Linked DNA regions of Homo sapiens. The protein of the gene in region 1 purifies or fractionates together with the protein of each later gene. This does not show direct contact. Each region holds a gene or a part of one and is shown on either strand. Other genes may lie near its edges. The genes, in order: ASNS, GARS1, AARS1 and IARS1.

The links.
Region 2: the proteins of ASNS (region 1) and GARS1 fractionate together in Homo sapiens (co-fractionation; 2 studies listed by BioGRID). This does not show direct contact.
Region 3: the proteins of ASNS (region 1) and AARS1 fractionate together in Homo sapiens (co-fractionation; 2 studies listed by BioGRID). This does not show direct contact.
Region 4: the proteins of ASNS (region 1) and IARS1 fractionate together in Homo sapiens (co-fractionation; 2 studies listed by BioGRID). This does not show direct contact.

Annotation. Positions count from the first base shown.
Region 1 is NC_000007.14:97,855,385-97,862,411, reverse strand, and holds part of ASNS (asparagine synthetase [glutamine-hydrolyzing]), read left to right. Parts: intron 1-3,013; coding exon 3,014-3,199; intron 3,200-3,456; coding exon 3,457-3,558; intron 3,559-4,006; coding exon 4,007-4,134; intron 4,135-5,595; coding exon 5,596-5,722; intron 5,723-6,952; coding exon 6,953-7,027.
Region 2 is NC_000007.14:30,618,868-30,625,894, forward strand, and holds part of GARS1 (glycine--tRNA ligase isoform 1 precursor), read left to right. Parts: intron 1-2,525; coding exon 2,526-2,633; intron 2,634-3,449; coding exon 3,450-3,595; intron 3,596-7,027. UniProt on the Homo sapiens protein: Catalyzes the ATP-dependent ligation of glycine to the 3'-end of its cognate tRNA, via the formation of an aminoacyl-adenylate intermediate (Gly-AMP).
Region 3 is NC_000016.10:70,258,501-70,265,527, forward strand, and holds part of AARS1 (alanine--tRNA ligase, cytoplasmic), read right to left. Parts: intron 6,603-7,027; coding exon 6,458-6,602; intron 4,025-6,457; coding exon 3,846-4,024; intron 2,658-3,845; coding exon 2,544-2,657; intron 687-2,543; coding exon 480-686; intron 1-479. UniProt on the Homo sapiens protein: Catalyzes the attachment of alanine to tRNA(Ala) in a two-step reaction: alanine is first activated by ATP to form Ala-AMP and then transferred to the acceptor end of tRNA(Ala). Also edits incorrectly charged tRNA(Ala) via its editing domain.
Region 4 is NC_000009.12:92,241,689-92,248,715, reverse strand, and holds part of IARS1 (isoleucine--tRNA ligase, cytoplasmic), read left to right. Parts: intron 1-1,164; coding exon 1,165-1,339; intron 1,340-3,644; coding exon 3,645-3,757; intron 3,758-5,404; coding exon 5,405-5,500; intron 5,501-6,385; coding exon 6,386-6,562; intron 6,563-7,027. UniProt on the Homo sapiens protein: Catalyzes the specific attachment of an amino acid to its cognate tRNA in a 2 step reaction: the amino acid (AA) is first activated by ATP to form AA-AMP and then transferred to the acceptor end of the tRNA.

The DNA.
Region 1 (7,027 bases):
CTTTGCCTTTCCCAGAATGTCGTATAATAGTTGTAATCATATAGTATGTAGCTTTTTCAGACTGGCTTCTTTCACCTAGCAGTATACATTTATAGTTCTTCTGTGTTTTTTCATGGCTTGATAGCTCATTTATTATTATTATTATTATACTTTAAGTTCTAGGGTACATGTGCATAACGTGCAGGTTTGTTACATATGTATACATGTGCCATGTTGGTGTGCTTGCTGAATAATATTCCATTTGTTTGCATGCAATGCAATTTGTTTATCCATTCTTGAATTACCCATTTCTAATTGAGTTATTTTGTCTTTTTATTACTGAATTGTAATAGTTCCTTATGTATTCTAGATACAAATCCCTTCTGTTCATCAGGGTTGCAGGATACAAGATGAATATACAAAAATCAATGGTATTTGACACACTTTAACTGAATACTACATACTTAAAATGAGCAATCAAAATGAAATTAAGAAAGCAACTTCATTTATAATAGCATCAAAAAGAATAAAATACTTAGAAATAAATTTAAGAAGTGTAAAACTTGTACTCTGAAAACTATAAAATGTTGTTGAAAGAAATGAGAGGAGATCTAAATAAATGGAAAAGTATCCCATGATCATGATTTGAAGGCTTAACATTGTTAAGATGGCAGTCCTCCCTAAACTGATTTACAGATTTAACTTGATCCCTATCAGAATCCCAGATGAGTTCTTTGTGAAATCTACAAGCTGACTCTCAAATTCATATGGAATTGCAAGAGACTAAGAATAGCCAAAACAATCTTTTGAAAATGAAGAACAAAGTAGGAGACCTCATATTAACTGATTTTAAAACTTACTACAAGACAATGGTAATAAGGACAATATAATACTGACAGAAGGATAGATGTATAGACTAGTGGGATAGAATTGAGAGTCAGAAATGAACCCATACATATATGATCAACTTATTTTTGACAAGGGTGCCAAGATTATTCAGTGGAGAAAGAAGTTTGAAAACTGGCACAGGGGCAACCAGATATGTAACCATATGCAAAACTTGGAGTTGAATCTTTACCCAACATCGTATACAAAAATTATGGATACAGAAAAATGGATCAGGCCAGGCGCGATGGCTTATGCCTGTAATCCCAGCACTTTGGGAGGCCGAGGCGGGTGGATCACGAGGTCAGGAGATCGAGACCATCCTGGCTAACACAGTGAAACCCCGTCTCTACTAAAAATTAGCCGGGCGTGGTGGCGGGCGCCTGTAGTCCCAGCTACTCAGGAGGCTGAGGCAGGAGAATGGCGTGAACCCGGGAGACGGAGCTTGCGGTAAGCCGAGATCGCGCAACTGCACTCCAGCCTGAGTGACAGAGCGAGACTCATCTCAAAAAAAAAAAAAAAAAGGATCAAATGAATCAGTTTTGAACTAATCCACTTAAATGTAAGGGCTAAAACTATAAAATCCCGAGAAGCAAACATAGAAGTAAATTGTCATGACCCTGGATTTGGCAAAGCTTTCTTAAATATGAGACCAGCAACAATAATAAAAATCAATGAATTGGACTTCATCAAAATTAAACATTTTTGCACATCAAAGGACACCATCAAGAAAGTGAAAAGACGGCCCACAAGTTGGAAGAAAATACTTGCAAATCATGCATAGCACTTTTTGATGGTAAACTTGAGGAAGACATTTATCTTTTATCCCTTACCTGTGCAGCAGTAACATCCTAATATCTCTCTCCCTGCCTCTTTTTGCCATTCTTTAAATTCTTTCTCACTTAATTTTCAGATTTAATATTGGCTGAAGCAGGGATAATGAGATCAATCAAAGGGGTCCTTAGGACACTAGTCACAGTGTTTGTACTAATACTGGAACTGGCTTATTTTCAGGCATTTCTAGTGTGATCAGATGGCAAAGAACAAGCATATATATATGTCAGTTGCCAGGACTGCTGGGAAAGCCTGGTAAAGAGAACACTGGGGAAAAGCAGCCTCCTGCTCCCCTGGGCCTTCTTTGAGCCTGATGATCACTTGATATGGAACTTACCCTCTGAAATTCCTTAATTGTTCTTTTCTATATCCTTGACACTGTCCTTTTCCAGACCAAATTATCTCATCTGGAATACTGCAACAATTTTCTTTTCTCAGTGCTTTTAGAATAACCTGTCAAAATCTCATCTGATTATAGTATTGCCTGCTTAAAACCTTTTAATTACTCCCCATTCCCTATCCGGGTTGTGTAGCTCACTTGAGCTCTGCTGGCTGGTGAGGGAATCTGGGTCCTTTTTCTGGTATTTGAATTCAGTGCTACACAGGTTACTGGCTGGGTAGACAATCTCAAATTGTAAATCACGAGTATTCCATGTAGATAGTCCATTACGATCTACAATAAAACATTGATGTTTGTATCAAAGATCATGGTGATGAGAGGTTGGGTACTGTACTGTCTGTGAGAATTTATTGAGGAAATTTAAGTTATATGGTTTTATTCACATATAGTGTATAACAACTAGTTAAGGGATAGATGTCTTCTTATCTGACTTTAAAGTAGGTAAAAGTGGATCATTGTACTTGTTAAAGGTCTGGGAACCATGGCTGTGTTCTGAAAATACCTCAGTGATGACAAATAAATGACTCCCAGCCTATCATAACATTAGGACTCCAGTTCATCCCTTTGCTTCATAAGTGTGTCTTTTCCTTTTGTGTATTTGCTTTAGTATAGAAAATAGGTTTTCTTGATTAGAAATCTAAGAAGAAGAAATTGAACACTGGAGATTTTTCTATTTCTTTGAATTACGAAAAGTTAGTGTAATTTGGCAGTATATCCCTGTGCCATTATTGTCTCTCAGGTAAGTAGATGGTAGGGCTTAGGAAAATAGAAAATTTTTTTTCCTATTTTGCTTATTTAATGGGTATGTGTTTGTATTAAAAAGGGAAAATAGGAATGTAGATGATGTTAACTAATCGTGAAAGTTATTGGGAAGGGTTACCTAATTTGAATAAAGGTATCATTGTGAATTTCTAGGTCTTGTTACATTGAAGCACTCCGCGACTCCCTTTTTAAAAGTGGAGCCTTTTCTTCCTGGACACTATGAAGTTTTGGATTTAAAGCCAAATGGCAAAGTTGCATCCGTGGAAATGGTTAAATATCATCACTGTCGGGATGTACCCCTGCACGCCCTCTATGACAATGTGGAGAAACTCTTTCCAGGTAGCAGACACCCACCCACCTATTCCCCATCCTTCTCCAAGGGAAAAAAATTTTAAGTTGTATTCTCCCATCATTTGAATGATTTTAGTTTCAAGACCTACTTCCTATTTTGTTTGGAGGGAACACATTAAGATTTGGCACACTCCACCATTGAGTAAATACCATCATGATAGATGTTGATGATTGTGTATTTCATTTCAATAACTAATCCAGCCCAAGATTTTCTGGAGCTGTTTGATTTACTGCTGTGTTTATAGGTTTTGAGATAGAAACTGTGAAGAACAACCTCAGGATCCTTTTTAATAATGCTGTAAAGAAACGTTTGATGACAGACAGAAGGATTGGCTGCCTTTTATCAGGTGAAGTCAATTAAAAAAACCTAATTATATTTCATGTGTGTTTAATTGAAATGATTTGTAGCCATCCCTTTGGTTTTTACTATAAAATATTTACTGTATGATTTACTCTTTCCTTCATTATAGGATGGAAATGATTTTTTATAAGCTGTATTTAATAGTCATAGTCATACTCCAACTTGAGTTACACTATAGCTATGTTATTGGTGTTAAGAGTGAGTCAGTGAATGTTCTTTAGAATTCTGTGTAGTGATTTTTAACCAATTCAAATACTACTATTATCACAGTTTATATATTTTTCTCTTGTTGAAGTTGATTTCAGTTTATAAAACTTGGCGGATTTTAAATAGTAAAACTATGATCTTGGTGTTTATCAGGAATATACATCTTCTGTCCCTGTCTTATGCAAGGCACATAACTAGGACACTTCCACTTCCTCTTTTGCATGTAGGGGGCTTGGACTCCAGCTTGGTTGCTGCCACTCTGTTGAAGCAGCTGAAAGAAGCCCAAGTACAGTATCCTCTCCAGACATTTGCAATTGGCATGGAAGACAGCCCCGATTTACTGGCTGCTAGAAAGGTAAGGTGCTGTCTCTGTCCCTTGTGTAGTGTAGTTAGAGTAGACTTGTTATTAGAATGAAAATGGAGTCAATAATGGGTGATTCTACTGCTGCTGTATTGACTGGGTCAATTGTTTTAAATTGATTGTATTAAAATAGAATGAAATGGCTGTTGGATATGCACTGTGTTGTACACTGTCCTCTGTGTACTTTTATCTGTTATGACCCATGCAATTCTCACAAAGACCCTATGATGATAAGTATGCTCTTTTGAAAGTAAAGGTGTCTGGGCATGGTGGCCTACACCTGTAATCCCAGCACTTTACGAGGCTGAGGGAGGTAGATTACCTGAGGTCAGGAGTTTGAAACCAGCCTGAGCAACATAATGAAACTCCATCTCTACAAAAAAATACAAAAACTAGCCAGGCTTGGTGACGCATGCCTGTAGTCTTAGCCTTATGGGAGCCTGGGTGACAGAGTGAGACCTTGTCTCAAAAAAAAAAGAAAGTAAAGGCATAAGTCAGGTGCAGTGGCACACACCTATAGTCCCAGATACTTGGGAGGCTGTGGGGGGAGGTCTGAGCTCAGGAGTTCAAGTCCAGGCTGGGCAACGTAGCAAGACCCCATCTTGAAAAATTAAAAAAACGGGTTTTTTGTTCGTTTTTTTTTTTTTTTTTTTTTAAACGTAAAGGCATAGTATCATGGCTAAGACTGCAGACTTTGGAACCTGACTTGTGGTTTGAAATCCTGGCTCTACTCATTTATGTAACCAAAATAATAGTGTCTGCTATGGGGAAATTTTAAGGTGAAATGATATAATTCATGTAAAGTAAGTAGGGTAGAACTTAGCATGTAGTAAGTACTTAATGAGTGTTAGCTGTTATTATTATTTTTGAAAGTACTGTATTTAGAATACTGTGGGCAGAGGGCAGCTTGTCTGTATTCAGTGAGCGGGAGACCTAGTTCCCACTATGGAGGACTTTCGTAGCATGGATGAGAAAAAGCTAGAGAGCAGTCTCAGTGCAAGGTAATCAATGCCGAGAGAATCCAAAATAGCCAAGGAAAGCAGAATGAGGGGAAGGGCCATTCTATATAAGAATAACATCCTGGATATAAAATTAGGCATTTAAGAAGGACCAAAAAAGACCAAGCTTAGCGTGGGACCATGTTGGACTAGAGAGAGATGAGGTGGGTTAGGTAAAATAGGTAGAGAGGGAGGTGCCAACTGGGAGAATGGTTGAAGCCTTGGCACCAGAGGAGCTGAGGGGAGACTTACTTCCTGGTGGTGGAGTTGAAGCAGGCGAGGGAACAGTGCTGGATGGGGCTTGTATGTGGTGGGCTGTAAAGTCATTTTTCTTTTTTTCCCTTGTTTAGTTTTCACCATTGTTAATTCATAAAGCTTTGTGAACTCCCATCATGTTTGATTTTCAAGGGAAGTTATTTTCTTTAACAAGTAAATGGGTATTTCTTTATATAATAAGGTGGCAGATCATATTGGAAGTGAACATTATGAAGTCCTTTTTAACTCTGAGGAAGGCATTCAGGCTCTGGATGAAGTCATATTTTCCTTGGAAACTTATGACATTACAACAGTTCGTGCTTCAGTAGGTAAGGTATTATGATATTCTTAAATAAAAAGCTTTTTTTAATACTGAAAAAAATGTAAGGTTTAAAAAAATTATTTCAAGCCATAGTTTTAAAATGTTATTTAAGGATGAATGCAAATTAAATCCCTATGTTACTGATTATTTAAGACCACTTAAGAATTCTCTGAATCTCTTTTGGAGTGAAGGGAATAGTAAATACGTAGTTCAACCTCCACATTGTTGGTGTCACTGTTGGTGTTTCCCCAGGGAGCAGATACATATTTTCTGCCCTCTACCTCCCATTTCTCTTATAGTTTCTTGGGCTACAGTCTATATACAGTGAGGAAATAGGTCTTTTTGGTAATGCATTTTTGATAAGAAATAGTCATTTTAGATATATTCCATCACACAACTTACCAGTCACTAGCTATCATTGCTCTGCAAACAATACTAATTTTATCTTGTAGATAATGTATCTACTGAGATTGGAAGTATACCCCAAATCAGACTGATCCAGTGTTATTGAGCCTTTATATGCTACTGCCTCCCTTGAGAGACTTGCCTTGGAAGGCAAAAATATCTTAGGTATTACAATGGTTTATGGCCCTCCAAAACATCACAGTAAATAAGCAGATAGACAGGATAGCTCTGGTATTGGAATTTCATGGGGCTGGGGTGAGGTTAGGAAAATAAGTGTCTAAAAAGGCTCTCTAGCTGAGGTGATAATAAAAACAAGGTTGAGAAGAAACACTGGTTTAGAGAGATGTGGTGCAGGACCAAGGAGGCAAGTTTAATAACTTATATAGTCTCCCCAGCTTTATGTGAAATCTGGTAAATGGGGAGTGGCAGGGGGAAAATACCCATCAAAATTAACACTAAACCACCAAAACGGTTATTCTTATTTTTGTGTCATAATACCACTATGAAAGGCATGATTTTTAGGTATTTGAGTCATTGTTCAGCTTAGCAAAGTTTTGAGGTGGACATTCTTGGTCTAAAAACATTAGAATTTTAAAACCTGTTTAGAAAATGACAAAATGGTTCCGGGTTATTTTATTTTACAGTAGTACTTTTGGATTAAGTACATATAAATGGCTTATAAATACAAGGTCATTATTGTGGAAACTACTTTATATTAATATGAAGTCCAGTATAGTAGTAAAGCTTTCAATTATTTCCAAAAATCAAATCAAAGGCATTTTTGGTGGAAGGTTATGTTGACATTAAAGTTAATTTCTCTCTCTCATTTAAGGTATGTATTTAATTTCCAAGTATATTCGGAAGAACACAGATAGCGTGGTGATCTTCTCTGGAGAAGGATCAGATG
Region 2 (7,027 bases), about 67 Mb from region 1:
GTCAAAATGATAATAGTAATTATTTTTAGGATTATGGGTGATCATTAATTTCTTTACACTTTTTAGATTTTCTGGGACTTCTTTTTATTTTCAGATCAAACCAATAAAATGTTTTTCCTTTTGTATGAGAAAAGATTATTACTTTTCTTTTTGTTTCATACCCAGCTCCTTCTCTTAGTTTGCTCTGATTCTGATTTCAGATTAAACCAGATGTTGTTCTTGCTGTCTCAGTTAAGTAATTTGCTTAAGTCTCACAGCCAGTGAGTGGTGAGGCTGGGATATAAACCTGGCTGTCTGACACCAGACTCATGCTCTTAACAGTTATGCTGTACTGCTTTATAAACCCCACTGGATGCCTGCTCGTCCTTATCTAAGTGCCATTGTGAGGGTTAGGGATCAGAAAATGGAAAGTCACTGGAAAACAGGGCTAAATGAAACAAGAAGCTCCAGAGTCCCAGAGGCTCTTAAGGAGAGGGGAGAACTCCCTTAGAGAGTTTAATACTTTTTGTGTACTTTATATATTTTTTTAATAAAAAAATTTACCGTTGCAGTTAATGCCACACCAATTCTCTTTCCATCCAGAGAAGTAACCACTATCCCAATGTTGTTATTCTCAGGCACGTTTTTGTAATTTTACCTTTCAGTACATAAATGTTAGTTGACATCTGCAGTAAATTATAACCACCAAACTATATGGTTAAGAACATAAGTATACTTAACCAGTCGACATGTATAGGGAATGTCAGATTGCCAGGTTACATGTTTTTAGGCTTTGTTCTTTAATTCCTTTTGTTGTTGTTTTGTGTTGGAGTTTCTGAGCTCATATGAGTTTTATATTTGCTTGCTTTATTACAGACACCCCATGTGATAACATGTGCTTGGAAAGCTTAGTAGTTTTTTCTTTTTTTCTTTTTTTTTTTTTTTTTTTGAGACAGAGTCTTACTCTGTCACCCAGGCTGGAGTGCAGTGGTGCACTCTCAGCTCACTGCAGCCTCTGCCTCCTGGGTTCAAGCGATTCTCCTGCCTCGGCCTCCCAAATAGCTGGGATTACAGATACATGGCACTGCACCCAGCTAATTTTTGTATTTTCATGAAGACAGGATTTCTCCGTGTTAGCCAGGCTGGTCTTGAACTTCTGACCTCAGGTGATCCACCCGCCTTAGCCTCCCAAAGTGCTGGGATTAGAGACACGAACCACTGTGTCTGGCCAAGCTTAGTAGTTTTGATGGTTGAATTTCCCCAAACTCTTTGGATCAAGGGCAAAAAAAAAAAATGAATCTTCTTGAGAAGGACTAACTAGGTATCTACCAAAATAAGCTCTTTACAAACTCTTGTTCTTATTGAAATAACGGGTTCTTAAGAGTTTGTCATAGTTGGGGTTTCTATAAGAAAGCACCACATACAGAGTGGCTTATAAACAATGGACATTGATTTCTCACCGTTCTGGAGGCTGGAATTGAGAGATCAGGGTGCCAGCATCGTCTGATCCTTGTGAGGGCCCCATTCTCAGTCGCATACTGCCAACTTCTTGTTGTATCCTCACATGGTGAAAGAGGGCAAGAGAGCTCTCTGGGGTCCCAAATTCCAGTGATTAGGGCTCCATCCTCATGACCTAATCACCTCCCAAAGGCACCTCCTCCTAATACCATCACATTGGGAGTTAGGATTTCAATATACGAATTTTGTCAAGGACACAAGCATTCAATTCATTGCAGGTTCTTTGAAAATAATTTAAATTTTGCTTTTTAAAAGTATCTTATGTGTGTATTTATAAGAAAGGGAACCTGGCATCAATGTGATCATAATGCTCTTATATAATTTTATTGTGTGACCTGAACTTTACCCACTCTTATACTGAGTTTTCTTTTGTTCAGTGAAGAAAGTGAATTGAATCCAAATGCCCACATTTATGGCCAGCTGAAGTATGTGTTTAGTCAGCCATCTGATATCAAGTTGTGAGAACACTAGGTACTTCATCTAAAGAATAGTGGTTTCTGCCAAATTCATTTTGATTTCTGTTCACAAATTTGAACCAAATTTACAGGCTTTGTCTAGGTTCACATTTAATTTCCATAATTAAATTCCAGAATATGTTAGTTTACCCCACAGACTCAGTATAACAATATAAATCCATCCAGAAAGGAAGACTACTTTGTGTACAGTGTGAATTATATATTTTTTTCTTTCTTTTTTTTTTTTTTTTTAAGATAGGGTCTCACTGTGTTGCCCAGATTGGTCTCAAACTCCTGGCCTCAAGTGATCCTTCCACCTCAGCGTCCCAAGTACCTGGGATTACAGGCATGAGCCATCACACCCAGATCAGTGTGAATTATATTTTATAGGCTTATTAGCTGCCTGATATATGAGGCTATTCCCATTTCAAATATTTATGAAATTTGAATGAAGATTATATCATCGAATTATCATTGAATATATGAAAGGTTTATAATCTGCATGCATTTGTGAATGAACCCAATATAAGTAATAATAAGTAAGTAATGTTTTTATTGATTATATCTTTTTAGGGTTGGATTGAGATTGTTGGATGTGCTGATCGTTCCTGTTATGACCTCTCCTGTCATGCACGAGCCACCAAAGTCCCACTTGTAGCTGAGAAACCTCTGAAAGAACCCATATCCTTTCTGGTCACTCCAAAAACTCAGGATTCACATGTGAACATCTTGCTAATGAATAAGTCCAAGTCTTTACCTTGTTCTATGGATAAATGGAGATGTTTTAGACACTGTAGTAACGCTTGTTTAAACCTATTATTTTACCTATCCCTTTGTTCCTTTCCTATTCTCTGTACTTGTAGTCTGACGTGTGCCCACTCAATGTTTGGCCTTTAAAAGAAGCATATTTAGAAAAATGCTCTGAATATCTTTCAGAACGTTAATAGTTTTTCTCAGCTGTTTCCAAAACGCACTTCACACCTGCACCTACCTACGTGCTCTTTAAATAAAGGGTACCTGGTGAAAGCTTTTTCCATTAAAAGATGAGTGCCATTTGATAGTAGCTGAAATAATAATTTAGCTCACTTGGTCTGAAAATCAGCAAAATAGAAATTTTCTTTCTTTAGTAGGCAGTGAAGTTATGAGCTGATTTCTTAGGGGTAGGTCAGTGACAGGAAATAGATCTTGTTTTGAGCATTTTAGAAATACTTATCAGAAGTTCTTATGCTATGGGTTGGGTCATTGCTGATTAGATAATATCTCTTTTTTCTCACTGTAACTGGAAAAGTTTCTATTGATGGTGTTAATTTTGGATGAGAGTTGTCTGAATGATTTTGTGGACAGGTGTTTCATCTTGCCTTAAAATCAGCATAAACAGGATCTGGAGTACTGATAGAGAGCTGGCATGGTTTTAAGTTGATGATTGATTGTTCTCAGGCTCATTTTCTGAAATACTGAGGCAGTGCTGTAGTTTTGGATTCCTTGACTACTTCATACAAAACAGTCAATGTTGTTCAGTTTGAACCCAGTAAGGGAGCAATTGGTAAGGCATATAAGAAGGATGCAAAACTGGTGATGGAGTATCTTGCCATTTGTGATGAGTGCTACATTACAGAAATGGAGATGCTGCTGAATGAGAAAGGGTAAGATATCAGATGTTTACTCTTCCATGGGCTCCAGTCAGTTGTGTCATCTGCCAGGTTCTGAAAGGATGAGATTAATTTCTTAAGATTTTTTGCAGGTAAGTACTGTATCTTGGCTGCATTTAAAAGACTGTCTTTGCCGAGATTTTGGCATTATAGCCTGAAAAAAGATTTGAAATAGAATATACTTTTTTTTTTTCCTAGTAACTGTCTTAAACAAAGAGACTTGTCCAGCCAGGCTGAGGAAGGAAGGGTTAGAAACTACATCTACTATCTCTCAGGTCACTTCTCTCTCCTTTTTGGAGGTTTAGAATACTCTCTGTAATTGTTTAAGCATGAATATAAACAATAGAGAAGGCCGGGCACAGTGGCTCATGGCTGTAATCCCAGCACTTTGGGAGGCTGAGGTGGGCAGATCACGAGGTCAGGAGATCGAGACCATCCTGGCTAACACAGTGAAACCCCGTCTCTACTAAAAATACAAAAAAATTGTCCGGGCATGGTGGCGGGCGCCTGTAGTCCCAGCTACTCAGGAGGCTGAGGCAGGAGAATGGCGTGAACCTGGGAGGCGGAGCTTGCAGTGAGCCACCATCGTGCCACTGCACTCCAGCCTGGGCAACAGAGTGAGACTCCGTCTCAAAAAAAAAAAAACAAAAAAAAAAAATAGAGAAAAGCCTTTAAAGAAATACAACAAAATCCAGCACTGAACAGTGTAAAACTTACAATATCCAGCAAACAATAAAAATTATTATATATATGAAAAAGCAGGAAAATGAGAAGTAAAGTCAGTCAAAAGAAACACCCAGAAAAAACAAACATGATGCAGTAAGTACATAAGGATGTTAAAGCACTTATTATAAATATGCTTCATGTACTCAAGGGTGTAAAGGAAAACATTAACATGTGAGGTGAGAAATGGAAAAATATATGTGTAATATGGATATAAACACATGTTTTTTATATATATAAACAACATGAAACATTTAGAGGCAATATCTCAAATGAAAATGTCACTGGATGGGATTAACAGTAGATTAAACATTACAGAAGAAAGGTCATTGAACTTAAAGACATAGCAACTATCCAAAATGAAGCATAGAAAAAAATGAGACTGGGAAAAAGATGTCCAGTGGGACAATATCAGGCAGTCTAATGCATGTGTAATTGAGAGTCCTAGAGAGGGTGTATAGAAAAAATATTATACAGTAGCTAGAAAATTTACAAATTTGATGAAAACGCTAAAACTACAGATTCAAGAAGCTTAGCCCCAAGCAGGATAAACACGAAGATGACCACATGAAGACCCGTGAGAATCAAATAGCTAAAAACCAGGGATGAAGAGAAGAACCTTTAAAGCAGCTAGTGGGGAAAAAGACTCATCACATAAAAGCAAACAAAGATAAGAATGATTAGAATTCATATCAAAAACTGCGCGGATCACAATATAATGGAATGAAATCTTTTAAAGTGCTTTAAGACAAAATTCCTACACCCAGCAAAAATATCTTTCAAAAATGAAGAGGAAGTACTTTAAGACCAAGCTTGTTCAACCTGCGGCCTGCAGGCTGCATGTGGCCCAGGATGGCTTTTGATGCTGCCCAACACAAATTCGTAAACTTTCAAAAAACATTATGAGGTTTTTTTGCATTTTTTTTTTCTTAGCTCATCAGCTGTGGTTAGTGTTAGTGTATTTTATGTGCAGTCCGAGACAGTTCTTTCTAGTGTGGCCCAGGGAAGCCAAAAGATTGAACACCTCTGTTTTAGACAATCCGGGGCTCTGAGAGTGCATTGCCAGCAGACCTCCACTATGAGAATTGTTAAAGGCACTTCTTCAGGCAGAAGTATGAAAGTTTAGATGTACCCAGAGGACTTGAGAGATCTAGAAATGATAAATATGTGGGTAAATAGAAATGGCATTTTCTCTGTCATCTCTTAATTTCTTTAAAAGATAATGGAGTATTTAAAGTAATATGGAATTTATAACATGGAAGTAAAATGTATGCTATCAGTAGCACAAAGGGTGGGAGCAAAGAATTGGGAATATACTCTTGTGAGGTGTATACATTATATGTGAAATGGTGTAATATTACTTGAAGATAAACTATGATAAGTTAAAAAATGGATAGAATGAACTCTAGAGCAATCACCTGGAAAAAAAACACACACAAAAAAGGGGTGTAACTAATAAACCAATAGTGGAGATAAAGTAGAATAAGAAAAAATATTCCACAAGAAGATGGGAGAAAAGGAAAAGGAACAAAGAACAGATGGGACAAAGATGAACTCTTGCAAGTTGAAGATACCTGTTTCAGAAAAATTTAAAAACATTTCTCGTCTTCCAGAATTAACATCTATTTATACTAAAACAATATCAAATCCCATTAAAATGGACTAAGTTATATTACTAGTTAAATATCATTATCCATAAACACAGTTTGCTTTATTAATTATTCTCAAATAATGGCTGTCTCCTTGTCAATTACAACTCTTTTTTTTTTGAGATGGAGTCTCACTCTGTCACCTAGGCTGGAGTGCAGTGGCGTGATCTCAGCTCACTGCAACCTCTGCTTCCCAGGTTCAAGCAATTCTCCTGCCTCAGCCTCCCGAGTAGCTGGGACTACAGGTGTGCACCACCACGCCTAGCTAATTTTTTGTATTTTTAGTAGAGACGGGGTTTCACCTTGTTGACCAGGCTGGTCTTGAACTCCTGACCTCAGGTGATCCACCTACCTTGACCTCCCAAAGTGCTGGGATTACAGGTGTGAGCCACCTCGCCTGACCCAATTGCAACTCTTTTATAGCTGTTAACTATGATACACTTAGACTGTGCTCACAGAGAGAATGCATGTGACACTGTGTATGTAATGGAACCTTGAATGCATGCACACACAGACTTCAGACAGAATAGTAAAAACGGAAGAATTCAGTGAACACCAGTCAGATGAGGCATGAGATTATCACAGGTGGAAACTAGCAAAATACAGTTATAACATATGCCAACTATCCAGCTTCTGAGACAACCACATGAGGGCTCTCTATCCTAGCACTGAATTGCTTGGGAGGGAGGAGAAATCCAAATGGATATTCAAAATGTGAGGAAATACCTCCTAAGCTGAAATACAGGTATTACATGAAGCTCTTTATAAAGATGAATTCTTATAACCTGAAACTGAATGGGCATATCTCAGGACACAAATACATGGCAGCCAGTGATTTTGAGGGGGATAATATTTTATATTGCCATATGAAACAGAAACATTAAACTTCTTTTAAACTGATCTTCATCAACACAAATGTCCAAATTTATTTTGAAAATAGTGTGGGTATTGGATTGTAAAATTACTTCTGTAAGATGGCATGCTGGTTCATTTGTACATTTGTTGGGACAGTAATGAGAACCCTTGTGTTTTTACCAGCAGGCCTATTTCTGAC
Region 3 (7,027 bases), on another chromosome or scaffold:
CTCCCCTCCACCAACCACCACCACTGCCCCCGGCAAAAGCACAGATGGAGAATCACTGCTTTAAACAAACTTTTTTTTTTTTTGAGACGGAGTCTCGCTCTGTTTCCCAGGCTAGAGTGCAATGGCGCAATCTCGGCTCACTGCAAGCTCCACCTCCCGGGTTCACACCATTCTCCTGCCTCAGCCTCCTGAGTAGCTGGGACTACAGGTGCCCGCCACCACGCCCGGCTAATTTTTTCTATTTTTAGTAGAGACAGGGTTAGCCAGGATGGTCTCAATCTCCTGACCTCGTGATCCGCCCGCCTCGGCCTCCCAAAGTGCTGGGATTACAGGCGTGAGCTACCGTGCCCAGCCTGCTTTAAGCAAATCTACGTGCAGGACGAATCTGATACAACAGAGTGAGAGCACCGCACTGCTAAGACTGTGGACAGACAGTGACGGTGTGGGGAGGGGGGGCATTCAGCCGTCGCCCATCCTACCTTGGCTGCCTCAATCATCTCATTAGCAATCTCTTCAGCCTTCTTGATCTGTTGGGTGGACATGGCTCCCTTGGCAGTAAAGTCAAATCTGAGGCGGTCAGGAGCAACCAATGAGCCTTTCTGGTCAGCTTCCCCAAGCACTGAGCGCAGGGCGAAGTTCAGAATGTGCGTAGCTGTGTGGTTGCTCATGATGGGTCTTCGTCGGGGCTGGAAAGGGCAGAGGGGCTCATGGAGAGGTCTGTAATAGACTGCTAGTTATCTCCTCGTTATCTGCTCCCCCGAGTGCTACAATTTTTAGTTGGAAATATGGCTGTGCAGAATAAAGGTTACATTTCCCAGCTTCCCTATGGCTAAGTGTGTCCATGTGACTAAGTTCGGGTCAAAAGGTTTTGAACAGAAGTGATGTCTACCATTAAAGGGATGGGGCAGGTCCTCCCATTTCTTTTCCACCGCCTAGAACAGGAATTGCCAAATGACGGCCGATGGCTAAATCTAGCCTGTCATCTGTCTTTTCATTTTTAGAGACAGGGTCTTGCTCTGTCACCCAGGATAGAGTACAGCGGCGCGATTGTAGCTCAGTGCCACCTCAAACTCCTGGGCTCAAGTGATCCTCTTGCCTCAGCCTCCCAAGTAGCTGGGACTACAGGCACACACCACTACCCCCAACTAATATTTTTTATTTTTTTGTAGAGATGGGGTCTCATGTTGTTGCCCAGGCTGGGTCTCAAACTCTTGGCCTCAAGCAATCCTCCCACCTCAGCCTCCCCAAATGTATGTGTTTATAAATTTTTATAAACAGTTTTTTTTTTTTATAAGGAGTTTCGCTCTTGTTGCCCAGTCTGGAGTGCTATGGCATGATCTCGGCTCACTGCAGCCTCCATCTCCCGAGTTCAAGCGATTCTCCTGCCTCAGCCTCCTGAGTAGCTGGGATTACAGGCATGCACCACCACACCCGGCTAATTTTGTATTTTTAGTAGAGACAGGGTTTCTCCATGTTGGTCAGGCTGGTCTCGAACTCCCGACCTCAGGTGATCTGCTCGCCTCGGCCTCCCAAAGTGCCGGGATTACAGGCATGAGCCACTGTGCCCAGCCATAAACAGGTTTATTGGAACACAGCCACACCTGTTCATTTACATATGGTCAATGGCTGCTTGAACACTCCAACTATAGAGCTGAGTACTCATCACCAGGAACATGTGGTCAGCAAAGCCAAAAATATTTAGTATCCAGTTATTTACACAAAGTTTGCCAACCCCTGGCCTAGACAATGGATCTGATAGCTATCCTCTGAACCAGGAAATCAAAGGCAATGCCCCAGGAAAGAAGGTGGAGTGACAGGTGAGGAGAAACCAGGCCCTCTGACTGTGGGGCAGAGCCTCCGTATCAGCTTGAGCTTTTTAGAACATACACTGCTATCCTGGTTTTAAGCTACTCTTACTCTGGAGCTCTGTCACATGCCAGAGCCTACCTCTTCATTCTTCAGCATCCTTGGCTCCCAAAGAAGTAGGTGACGTTAGAAAAGCAATCCGTGAAAACAAGTCCACGGGATCTTAACTGAAATCACTGGTGAAATCACTGACTTGGGAACATATAGATTAACTCTTAGTTGCATCCCTCACAATCCACCAAATGCACCTAAATTAACCCCTGCGGTCTACTTACACTAGGGAGTGATAACAGTGACAGGACAATTTTTTTTTTGAGGCGGAGTCTCGCTCTGTTGCCCAGGCTGGTGTGCAGTGGCGGGATCTTGGCTCACTGCAAGCTCCCCCTCCCGGGTTCACGCCATTCTCCTGCCTCAGCCTCCCGAGTAGCTGGGACTATAGGCGCCTGCCACCACGCCCAGCTCATTTTTTATATTTTTAGTAGAGACGGGGTTTCACCGTGTTAGCCAGGATGGTCTCGATCTCCTGACCTCATGATCCACCCGCCTCGGCCTCCCAAAGTGCTGGGATTACAAGTGTGAGCCACCACACCCGGCCCAACAGTGACAGGACAATTTAAAGCCAGAGGAGAAGATAATTACTAACCAGATCCAATGGGGGCCACAGTAACCCAACTCACCTCATCAATAAACAGCCAGACCTGATCCCCCACTTTCAGGTCACCGTAGATGGTTCCAATGTGTAGCACATACCCTCCTCGGACCTGAGCATTCTTCACTGTAAACTCTGTTTTCTAAGAGGGGTCAAGGAAGAGACCAATAAATAAATCCTTAAAAACATACAAATTTTCTTATATTTTCAATATAAACTCGTGTATATAACTTCTCTTTACATATGTAAATTGCACACACACACATACTCCCTTAATATCATTAAATATGATTAAATAGGCCAGGTGCAGTGGCTCATGACTGTAATCCCAGCACTTTGGGAGGCTCAGGTGAGTAGATCACCTGAGGCCAGGAGTTCGAGACCAGCTTGGCCAACATGGTGAAATCCCATCTCTACTAAAAAAATACAAAAATTAGCCAGGCGTGAAGGCAAGTGCCTATAATTCCACCTACTCAGGAGGCAGAGGCAGGAGAATCGCTTGAACCCGGAAGGCAGAGGTTACAGTGAGCCAAGATCATGCCACTGCACTCCAGCCTTGGCTACAGAGCGAGACTCCATCTCAAAAAAAAAAAAAAAAAATTAAATATATTTGTGCACACACACAGACATAACCAATATTAAGGAGCATCTTAGAATTTTTTTTTTTTTTTTGAGACAGAGTCTCGCTCAGCCACCCAAGCTGGAGTGCAGTGGCGCAATCTCGGCTCACTGCAACCACCCTCTCCTGGGTTCAAGCGATTCTCCCCTCTCAGCTTCCCGAGCAGGTGGGATTACAGGCATCCACCACCATACCTGGCTAATTTTTGTATGTCAGTAGAGACAGGGTTTCACCATGTTGGCCAGGCTGGTCTTGAACTCCTGACCTCAGGCGATCCACCCGCCTTGGCCTCCCAAAGTGCTAGGATTATAGTCATGAGCCACCACACCCAGCCGCATCTTTGAGTATCTAAAAGCCTCCATAAGGAACCTGAAGCCTAGGGAGACAAAGTAACTCATTCAGCAGCGGCAGAGCTCGAGGCTGAGTTTTCTACAAGGACATCTCCCCTTCAGAGAGCTGCCTCTCCTTTTTAATGTGCAAAGCTTGTAGGAAACTTGTACCCTGGCTGCAAAAATACTCCTACGAGGGTACCCGATGGCCAGGAAAGCAACAGGTACAAGCAACAGCTCCCTCGGCTTCAGAAATACCATGGAACCCAACCCAAAGGTGTGTCAGGTCTGCTCCCAAGGCCTGGAGCACTGTGGGGCAAAAGCAGCTCCCCGGCTCCACGCCTGGCCCTCCTCGGCTAACAAGGAAGAACTGTTGGCTCACATCTTCACTGCTGTCATCCACCTTCACCAGGTAGCCTTCGTCATAGATCTGGCCTCCTTGCTCAGCATAGAAACAGGTCTTGTCCAGCACCACTCCACACTCCTGGCCTGTGGACACCTCTTCCACGAACATCTTCTCCCTGCGCAGAGCCATCACCGTAGCCACTGTGTTCTCAAATACTGCTCAAGGGAAATGCATAGAAAGGGGACAGTGGGGTCAATGACCTTTTCACTCCTTCTTGGCTGACTTTTGCTGGATTCTCTTTCGCAAACTCTTCTTAGCTCCTAATTGTCCAATTGTATTTTGGAAGCAAACTCATTAGACAATATGAAAGGGCTTCGCGGCCGGGCGCGGTGGCTCCCCCTATAATCCCAGCACTTTGGGAGGTCGAGGCAGGCGGATCACGGGGTCAAGAGATCGAGACCATCCTGGCTAACACGCTGAAACCCTGTCTCTACCAAAAATACAAAACATTAGCCGGGTGTGGTGGCGGGCACCTGTAGTCCCAGCTACTCAGGAGGCTGAGGCAGAAGAATGGCGTGAACCCAGGAGGCGGAGCTTGCAGTGAGCCGAGATTGTGCCACTCCACTCCAGCCTGGGTGACAAAGCAAGACTCGGTCTCAAAAAAAAAAAAAAAAAAAAAAAAAAAAAAACAACAACAACAAAGGGCTTCGCATGCTGGCTTTCCATCAAAGAATGCAACACTCTGTCGGGTGACCAACTGTCCCAATTTTTAGGACTGAGGGGTTTCCTGGGATGCAGGCTTCAGTGTTAAAACTGGGACAATGGGTTACCCTAACTCTGAGCTACTGAACAGAAACTTGGTGCATCAGATTAGTAGATCTTTAAGAGTAGTAATAAATTCCCTAGTCCAAGGTCAACTCACAAAGAATGTACTCATTTTGTAGGCTTGCTTGAATAGATTTAGGTGTAAGATTGTTCTCAGCCGGGCACGGTGGCTCACACCTGTCATCCTGGCACTTTGTGAGGCTGAGACGGGTGGATAACCTGAGCTCAGCAGTTTGAGACCAGCCTGGCCAACACGGTGAAACCCCGTGTCCACTACAATACAAAAATTAGCCAGGTGTGGTGGCACATGCCTGTAATCCCAGTTAATTGGGAGGCTGAGGCAGGAGAATCACTTCAAGCTGGGAGGCAGAAGTTGCAGTGAGCCGAGAATGCGCCACTGCACTCCAGCCTGGGTGACAGAGCGAAACTCCATCTCAAAAAAAAAAAAAAGATTGTTCTCTACCAGGGCAAAAAAGCTGCAAAAACATGTATTGCCAATTTATTTTTATGTTTTTTTTGAGACAGGGTCTCACTCTGTAGCCCAGGCTGGAGTGCAGTGGCACAAATATGGCTGACTGCAGCCTCTCAATCTCCCAGGCTCAAGTGATCCTCCTGCCTCAGCCCCACAAATAGCTGGGACTACAGGCATGCGCCACCACACCTAGCTAATTTTTGTATTTCTGGTAGAGACAGGGTTTCGCCATGTTGCCCAGACTGGTCTCAAACACCAGAGCTCAACTGATCAGCCCACCCTGGCATCCCGAAGTGCTGGGATTACAGGCATGAGTCATTGCACTGGCTTTGTTTCTTAACTTTAGAATACTATTATCCGGTCGGGCGAGATGGCTTACGCCTGTAATCCCAGCACTTTGGGAGGCCAAGGCAGGCAGATCATGAGGTCAGGAGTTTGAGACCTGCCTGGCAAACATGGTGAAACCCTGTCTCTACTAAAAACACAAAAATCAGCCGGGTGTGGTGGTGCGTGGCTGTAATCCCAGCTACTTGGGAGGCTGAGGCCGGAGAATCGCTTGAACCCAGGAGGTGGAGGTTGCAGTGAGCCGAGATCACACTATTGCACTCCAGCCTGGGCAACAGAGGGAGATTCCATCTCAGAAAAAAAAAAGAATGCTATTAGGATAATAGCATTCTAACAGCATTAGGATAATAGAATCCTAATAGCATTCTTTTTCTTTTTCCCCGAGACGGAATTTCACTCTTGTTGTCCAGGCTGGAGTGCAATGGCATGATCTTGGCTCACTGCAACCTCTGCCTCCCAGGTTCAGGCGATTCTCCTGCCTCAGCCTCCCGAGTAGCTGGGATTACAGGGGCACGCCACCACGCCCGGCTAATTTCCGTATTTTTAGTAGAGATGGGGTTTCATCATGTTGGTCAGGCTGGTCTCAAACTCCTGACCTTAGGTGATCCACCTGCCCCGGCCTCCCAAAGTGTTGGGATTACAGGTGTGAGGCACAGCGCCAGGCCCCTAATAGCATTCTGATAGTCACTGTGGATTGTATCAATGTCAATTGCCCAGTTTCCTGCATGATGTTACAATTAGGGGAAACTGGATAAAAGGGTGTGAGACCCTTCCTACAAATTTTTTTTTTTTACAACTTCCTGTGACAATAATTATTTCAAAATAGAGTTAAGAAAACCTCCAGCCAAGGGTGCCTATGTGTATAAAAGTGCATAGCGTGACTGTACGGCACTCCAGGAGAGGCTGTCAGCAGTCTGCTGGAGAGCTAATCTTGAGAAACAATCTTTCAAATACCCCCCAGATACGGGGCAGAATGCTCAGATGTGGAAGGAGCACAGCAACATACCATAGCTACCACTGGAGTCCAAATGGTAATTGTACTTTGGGGAATCATCTGTGACCTCCAGACCCCGTGCCCGGAGCTCTTCGATAGCGTAAATGTCCAGCATAATGAGGTCTTCCCCACCAGCTCCCTTGCCCTGTGATTTCAGCTGTCAGCAAGAGAAACAAGCATAAGTTACCGTAAAGTAGGAGAAAAGGGACTCCAAAGGACTGGAACTTGCTAAACTATGCCCAGCATAAACTGCCAGAACAGGGTTTTTCAATCCTGGCACTACTGACATTTGGGGCCAGATCATTCTCTGTTGTGGAAACTTCTCTTGCAGTGTGGGATGCTGAGGGGCACCCTGGCCTCTACCAAGTACGTGACAGCAGGATCTGCCCCTAGTTGTGAAAATCAAAAATGTCTTCAGACATTATCGCCAATTACTCCCTGGAAGGCAGACTCGCCCCCACTTGAGAACCACTGATCTAGGGGAAAAAGCACTTCAAAGACTTTAATGGAAGGAAACTCATGCTCAGTCTGCAGCCAAGTGGTGCTGGGTTGGAAGGTGTTGGGTTTCCTGTTCACTCTCCA
Region 4 (7,027 bases), on another chromosome or scaffold:
CTGACATTAGTACCTGTGGCTATGCATAAAATAGAAATTTTTTTTTTTTTTTTTTTTTTTTTTGTGACAGGGTCTCGCTCTGTCACCCAGGCTGGAGTGCAGTGATGTGATCTTGGCTCACTACAGCCTCCATCTCCTGGGCTCGGGCAATCCTCCCACCTCAGCCTCCCAAGTGGCGGAGATTAGGCATAGTAGTACAGGCTTTTGTAGAGATGGGGTTTTGCCATGTTGCCCGGGCTGGTCTCTAACTCCTGAGCTCAAGTGATCCTCCCACCTCGATCTCCCGAAGTGCTAAGATTACAAGTTTGCGCCACCACACCCAGCTGAAAAATTTTGAAATTAACTACTTCACTTAAAATGAGATTAATTAATGTAGCTAAATATAATGGCAAAACTAAACATTCCGTATTATTTGCTTCAAGCTGTTCTCATTTTCCCATCCGCTACTGTGCCATCACCATCCCTGCCGCATCAGTAATCCTCAGTAGCATGACTGAAGCATGAAGTGTTCTGTTTAACTGATCTTCTGCTTAGTTAATAGTTAACCTTGTGGTACTCTGCAATTGCTTGCACAAAGGTTACCTCTGAGGGATGAGGTTTATATTTCTGGGTCTGGAGTCCTTTTTCTGTTATGCTCAACTGTCTTGATAGATCTTCATAACAAGCATTTTCTTCTTACCATACAAATCACTGGTTTTTAAGCATATTTATAGAATGGTACAACTATCACCATAGTTTTAGAACATTTTCCTCGTCCCAGAAAGAAAGCCAGTATTCATTAACATTCACAAACCATTTTCCCCTCAATATCTGACCATTTCCTGGCATCCACGAACCTATTTGCTATCTCTGGATTTGCCTTCTCTGGACATTTCATATAAGTGGAATCATACAATTTGTAATCTTTATGTCTGGCGTGTTTCACCTAGCATAATGTTTCACATTAATTTATGTTGTAGCACATATGAGTGCTTCAGTCCTTCATATTGCCAAATACTCTATTGCATGTGTATGCTGCATTTTGTTTATCCATTCACAGTTGATGGACACTTGAAGTGTTCTTGCTTTCTGGCAGTTAGGAATAATGCTGCTGTGGACCTACATTTTTGTGTGAACATATGTTTTCATTTCTCATTTTTGTTTCCTCTTGTGCATTAACTGTAGGAACTCAATGTTCGAAAAGTTACACTGTCTACAGATAAAAACAAGTATGGCATTCGGCTAAGGGCAGAACCAGATCACATGGTCCTGGGGAAGCGTCTGAAGGGAGCCTTTAAGGCAGTGATGACGTCCATCAAGCAGTTGAGCAGTGAGGAGCTGGAGCAGTTCCAGAAGACTGGTAGGTGTCTACACAGACAAGGGCACCATTTATGTCCTGAGTCTGAGGGATACTTTTTAGGCTACTGTTTGACTTTTAATATCACATCCTTTCCTTTCCTGTCCTGTCGTGTCCCGTCGTGTCCTGTCCTTTCCTTTCCTTTCCTTACTCTCTTCTCTTTTCTCTCTTCTCTCTTCTCTTTTCTTGACAGAATCTCGCTCTGTCATCCATCCTGGAGCACAGTGGCGCGATCTTGGCTCACTGCAACCTCTGCCTCCCAGGTTCAAGTGATTCTCCTGCCTCAGCCTCCCAAGTAGCTGGGATTACAGGCACGTAGTACCATGCCTGGCTAATTTTTGTATTTTTGGTAGAAACAGGGTTTCACCATGTTGGCCAGGCTGGTCTCTAACTCCTGACCTCAGGTGATCCACCCGCCTTCGGTCCCCCAAATTGCTGGGATTACAGGTGTGTGCCACTGCACCGGTCCATCCTTTTCTTAAGTAAAACTTTTTTTCCTGTTGATAAAAATGTTTATTATAAATAATTCTTACAGTTTAGAAAGAAAATAGCTGGGCACAGAGGCTCACATCTGTAATCCCAGCGGCTCACATCTGTAATCCCAGCATTTTGGGAGGCCCAGTTGGATAGATCACTTGAGATCACTACAGGCACATACTACCACACTTAGCCAGATGTGGTGGTATGTGCCTGCCATCCCAGTTACTCTGGAGGCTGAGGTGGGAGGATCCCTGGAGCCTAGGGTGATTTTGTCCTTACTTTCATGGTGCTTGCTGACATTGAAGATTTGGGAAAATAATTATGGTTTTGATAAGTGTTATAAAGGGAAGGTGTAGGGTAACATAAAAACATGTGGGGGTACCTAACCAAATGATGGGATTAGGAAAGGGAAATCAGCCCCATCTTGCTACCCCTATACAGAGCATTTCAGGGTGCCCAGAAATTTGCAGCTCTGCCATGATTAGAATCATACATGGTCTGAGTGTGGCTGTCTGACATCCTGTAACTATCCTGGGGCACAAGCTGTTTATTGTTACGGCTTCCTCTGAAGTTGAAAATCATAAGCTAGGAGATGTCTTGAGAAGAGAGATTTGAGGATTCATAAATCAGATGGGGGAACTGTCCCTAAGATTCTCCAAATATTTAGATAGAATTAATAAAACATAAGACATCAGCAGCTAAACCTCAAGTTATTACTAATTACTAATCAACTCAAAATATTAAAATAACAAAGTGTTACGAGCCTTCAAGCCACAAATCTAAATTGTTCGCCAGATAGCCAAAGCATCAAAAATTCCTGAGATGGCTGGGGGTGGTGACTCATGCCTGTAATCCCAGCACTTTGGGAGGCCGAGGCGGGCAGATCACGAAATCAGGAGATTGAGACTGTCCTGGCTAACACGGTGAAACCCCGTCTCTGCTAAAAACACACACACACACACAAAATTAGCCAGGTGTGGTGGCAGGCGCCTGTAGTTCCAGCTACTCAGGAGACTGAGGCCGGGGAATGGCGTGAACCCAGGAGGCAGAGCTTGCAGTGAGCCGAGATCCTGCCACTGCACTGCAGCCTGGGTGACAAAGCAAGACTCTGTCTCAAAAAAAAAAAAAAAATTCCTGGGCTAAACCTTATTTGAAATTGAAAGCCTAGTTTCTGAGCGTACTGTTCTGCACTGATGGAAAACAAGATCATCTTCAGAACACAGAGACAAAGTAAACATAAAAATGACACCCGGGTGCTCAGAGCCCAAGAAGGTCATCATCAGTGACAACAGTGGGCCTCCCTATCAGCGGGGGTGTTAACATCAGCAGCTGTTCACATTTCTGCCTCCCCTGAACAGGCATGATGCTCAGTACTACACACTGCCCGTCTCATTTTAGCCTCACCACACCTTGCTCAGCAGGTAGCAGAACACCATGTCATACAACCAGCAAATAGTGGACCTAAGTTCACTTTCTCTTTAAAGACTGTATTTTCTTCATGACATCCTGCTGCTCTGTGTTTATGGTGAGCATTTGTTGCCTCTTGGTGCCTTCCCTTAGCTTTGTCATGTCTTTGGACCTGAGAGTTTATATAAAACAGTAGATACTGGTGATGACTTAACTGTCTTCAAGGTAGCATAGTGTAATCTAAAGAAAGTTTGTCATGTCTTGGCTACAACCATGACATGAGTCAGAGGGAAATGATCTCTTGAAGCCTCTGTGGCTTTGTTATTGTGAAATTTTAATCAAGAAGGGGCATAATACACGGGTAGTGGGGCAGCTTGAAGAGGAGGGGAAGCTGATTAACAGTGTAGCTGCTTCTCCATAGGGACCATTGTTGTGGAAGGCCATGAATTGCACGATGAAGACATCCGCCTCATGTACACCTTTGATCAGGCCACAGGTGGGACTGCGCAATTTGAAGCACACTCAGATGCTCAGGTATTTTTCTGTTTCCTAGAACATTTCTTTACCAAGAGATGAGAGCATAAGAGGAGAAAGTATTTGCCTGTGCCTTTCCTGATAATGTTGACAGCTTGTCTCAGGGTAAAATAAACCAGTTACTTGGTTTAGATTGGCTTTATTAAACTAATATATTATTATGCCCTTAACATATGCATTTGTTTAGTGAATACATAAGTAAGCATTTTGTGATTTCTACATGTCAGTCATTGTCCCAAGTGTGGGGTTGCACAAAAATGAACCCTTCAAGGAATGAGTCAGTCAAGGACACCTGAAATTAAGCCAGTTCTTAGTATTCTACCTGATAAGTTATCTGGTAGAAATAAGTACACAGAGGGCTCCTATCCAAAAATAGGTGTAGGGTGAAAAGTGGTCAGGGAACACTCTTTTCAAGAGAATATACAAACTGTTTTAGATTCCAGGATCAATATTTTTTGCCATATTGGAGAAGAGACTATCTCTTTGCAGTCCTGACCAGACATCCCCAGTCAGCATAGTTGTAAGATCTCGCATGTGGGTTTGGGGATATTGCAGGGGTCCCTCTGTGCTTAGCATACCATGTGCAGGGGAAGGTAGAGCAGCACCTCCATGAAAGGAAGGTCGACCTCCTCAGTCCTTTACCCAGGCGCTTAAGTTAGATGTGTACAGAACTCTACGTGGGAAGACAGTGGCAAGGAGTCGGAGGTATCGTAGCTGGGAAAGAAGGCAGGGAGGAGGTTTCTAAACACTGACAGTGGGCAGTTCTTCCTCATTACAGCAGATGTTAGGGGCCTGAAAAGTTGTCCACCTTACAAAAGTGTCATGTGATGCTTCTGAGTTTCTTGACATGGCTTACATGTTGTAGTGGCCCTGCACTGACTGGAATTTTGAGTTTATCATGCATTTCACTACCTCTGATGCCTTTATGAAGTGAGTCATTTCTTAACTTCTCTGTTTACTCAAAGGTAAATGAGATGATGCCTAATGTACAAGTCTTTTGTAGAGTATATTTTACTCTGCAACATGCTGTGTAACAGAAGCGATAGTGTCATTATTGCTACATCATAATCAGCAACCTTCAGAATAGATGAGATAGAAACATTAACCTTAGCAAAAATATGGCAGTTTAAGTCACAGAAAGTTTTGTGGTCCATTGTAGAATTTGTCTTGAGTCGTTCTGACAAACCTGAAGATCACAGGGGTCATGGTATAGGAAAGTCACTTGGAGTTGACTGCGCTGAGGCCGTTGATCCACTTGTTGTGGCCTGAAAAGCTGTGCTGCTCCAAGGGCTTCATGATTATTGATCTTACTTATTAGAAGAGTTGATATTACTTCTTAGATGGCCAAAAAGCAGAGTCATGTGAGGGACTCTGATAAGAGGTGGTCCCAGGGCATCTCCTGTGAGCAGCACCCTACAAAAAAACAAGAAACAAAAACCTGCACACCTTTCTCCAGAGACAGAGGACTAGCTGATTATGAAGAAGTACCTGAATGATAAACTAGATTAATTTTATTGCTTTTGCTCATTTGTGTGAAAAAATAGTGCTGCATTATAGACTCTCCAGATTTAAATAACATTTTGCTGAGTTGGGAAGAAGTGTTTCTCCTTATTTGATTGTCATGGTGTGCACTGTTCATTCCCACAGGCTTTGGTCCTCTTAGATGTCACTCCTGACCAGTCAATGGTAGATGAAGGAATGGCTCGGGAAGTCATCAATCGCATACAGAAACTTCGCAAAAAGGTTAGTTTGTCAGTTAAGAATAAGCTACTGTTTTGGCTTTTTGTTTGTTTTGGTTGTTTGGAGAAGATAGGAGAGGCAGGTAATATAAACCATAGTGATCAATGCATAACAATCACTAATCCATAGTCCATTTGGAATGTATTCTGCAGAAAAGTCACTCCTCTTCCTCTCCCCACGTGTTCACTCCCAAGTCGTAGCTTTCAGCCAGCCTGTGCCTTTTCCCATCCTTTTTTTTAGCTCCGTTGGGCTTCTACAGAATATCCCCTGTGACTGGAGCAGAAGGTAATCAGAGCTGATAGTGTCTTTGCAGAAGGGCAGAGGTGCAGTCAGCATAGACAGGCTTCTAGCTTAGGGGAGATTCCCGGATTTGGACAGAGTTGGGTAGTTTTTCCTTATTAGAGAGCTGAGGAATATGCAGGGAGCTCATCCTGGAGCGCAGAGGGGCTGCAAAGCCCCTGCTAGTGAGAGAATCAGGAATTTCTTGCCCTGTAGAGGGCAGTGACAGCTAACATACATCTTTCTTCCCAGACGGTTCAAGGTCTGAGGAGGCTGTTCCAGCAGATGAGTGGGTGCTTGTGACCTCTGAATCAGTTCAGAGCTTTGTAAGTGGGTTCTAAGTAATTTCTTGGTTTCAACATTCATGAGGTACTGATTGTTCTAGGAAAAGAAACATGCCCTATCCCCCAAAGAGTGGTGAAAAAGACACAAAGTTAATCATGTACTGAGTGCAGTTAGTCTTACGGATCACCCAGCAGGGAGGGAAGGGTGACTGCCCTTCTGTGATGATTCAGCATGGGATCTGTAGCCCTTGTTCAACAGTACCTTCCTTCAGTTCTGATTAATAGAATGTACTTCCCTTTTAAATTTTTCTGTGTGTGTTTTCAGTGCAATCTGGTTCCAACTGATGAAATCACAGTGTACTATAAAGCAAAGTCTGAAGGAACATATCTGAATAGTGTTATTGAAAGCCACACAGAGTTCATATTTACCACCATAAAGGCTCCCTTGAAACCATATCCAGTTTCTCCATCGGATAAAGTCCTTATTCAAGAAAAAACACAGGTGAGTCCTGAGTTCCACTGAACTACTACTAAAGGGTTTCAGATTAGGTTTGACTTTGTGTACTCACGTGTTGATATTCTGTCCCACAGTAGAGATCGGCACAGCACTCTGTCTTGAAGTATTGCTCTGGACAGTAGTGGGTAGAGTCAGAGAGTGGAAGCTCAGAAAAGATGGAGCAGGGAGGGAAGATGGAACTGTTTTCACAACAGTTCTCTTGAGGAAGGTAGCCAGGAGGGTACATGAGCTTTGCCCGGAAATAAAATGGCCTGTTTTTTCTAAAACTAGAAAAGGCAGTGTGTGGATTCTGGTAATTATCATTAAAAGTAAATAGCAATTGGCTTGAAAAACATTTAACTCTTCTGGTAGTGGGTTCTCCATAAAAGTACAGTACAAAAAAAGAAAGATTACAATAGCATTTCTGTTGTTACATCTAGGAATTTTAGATATACTTATGAAAGTATGATA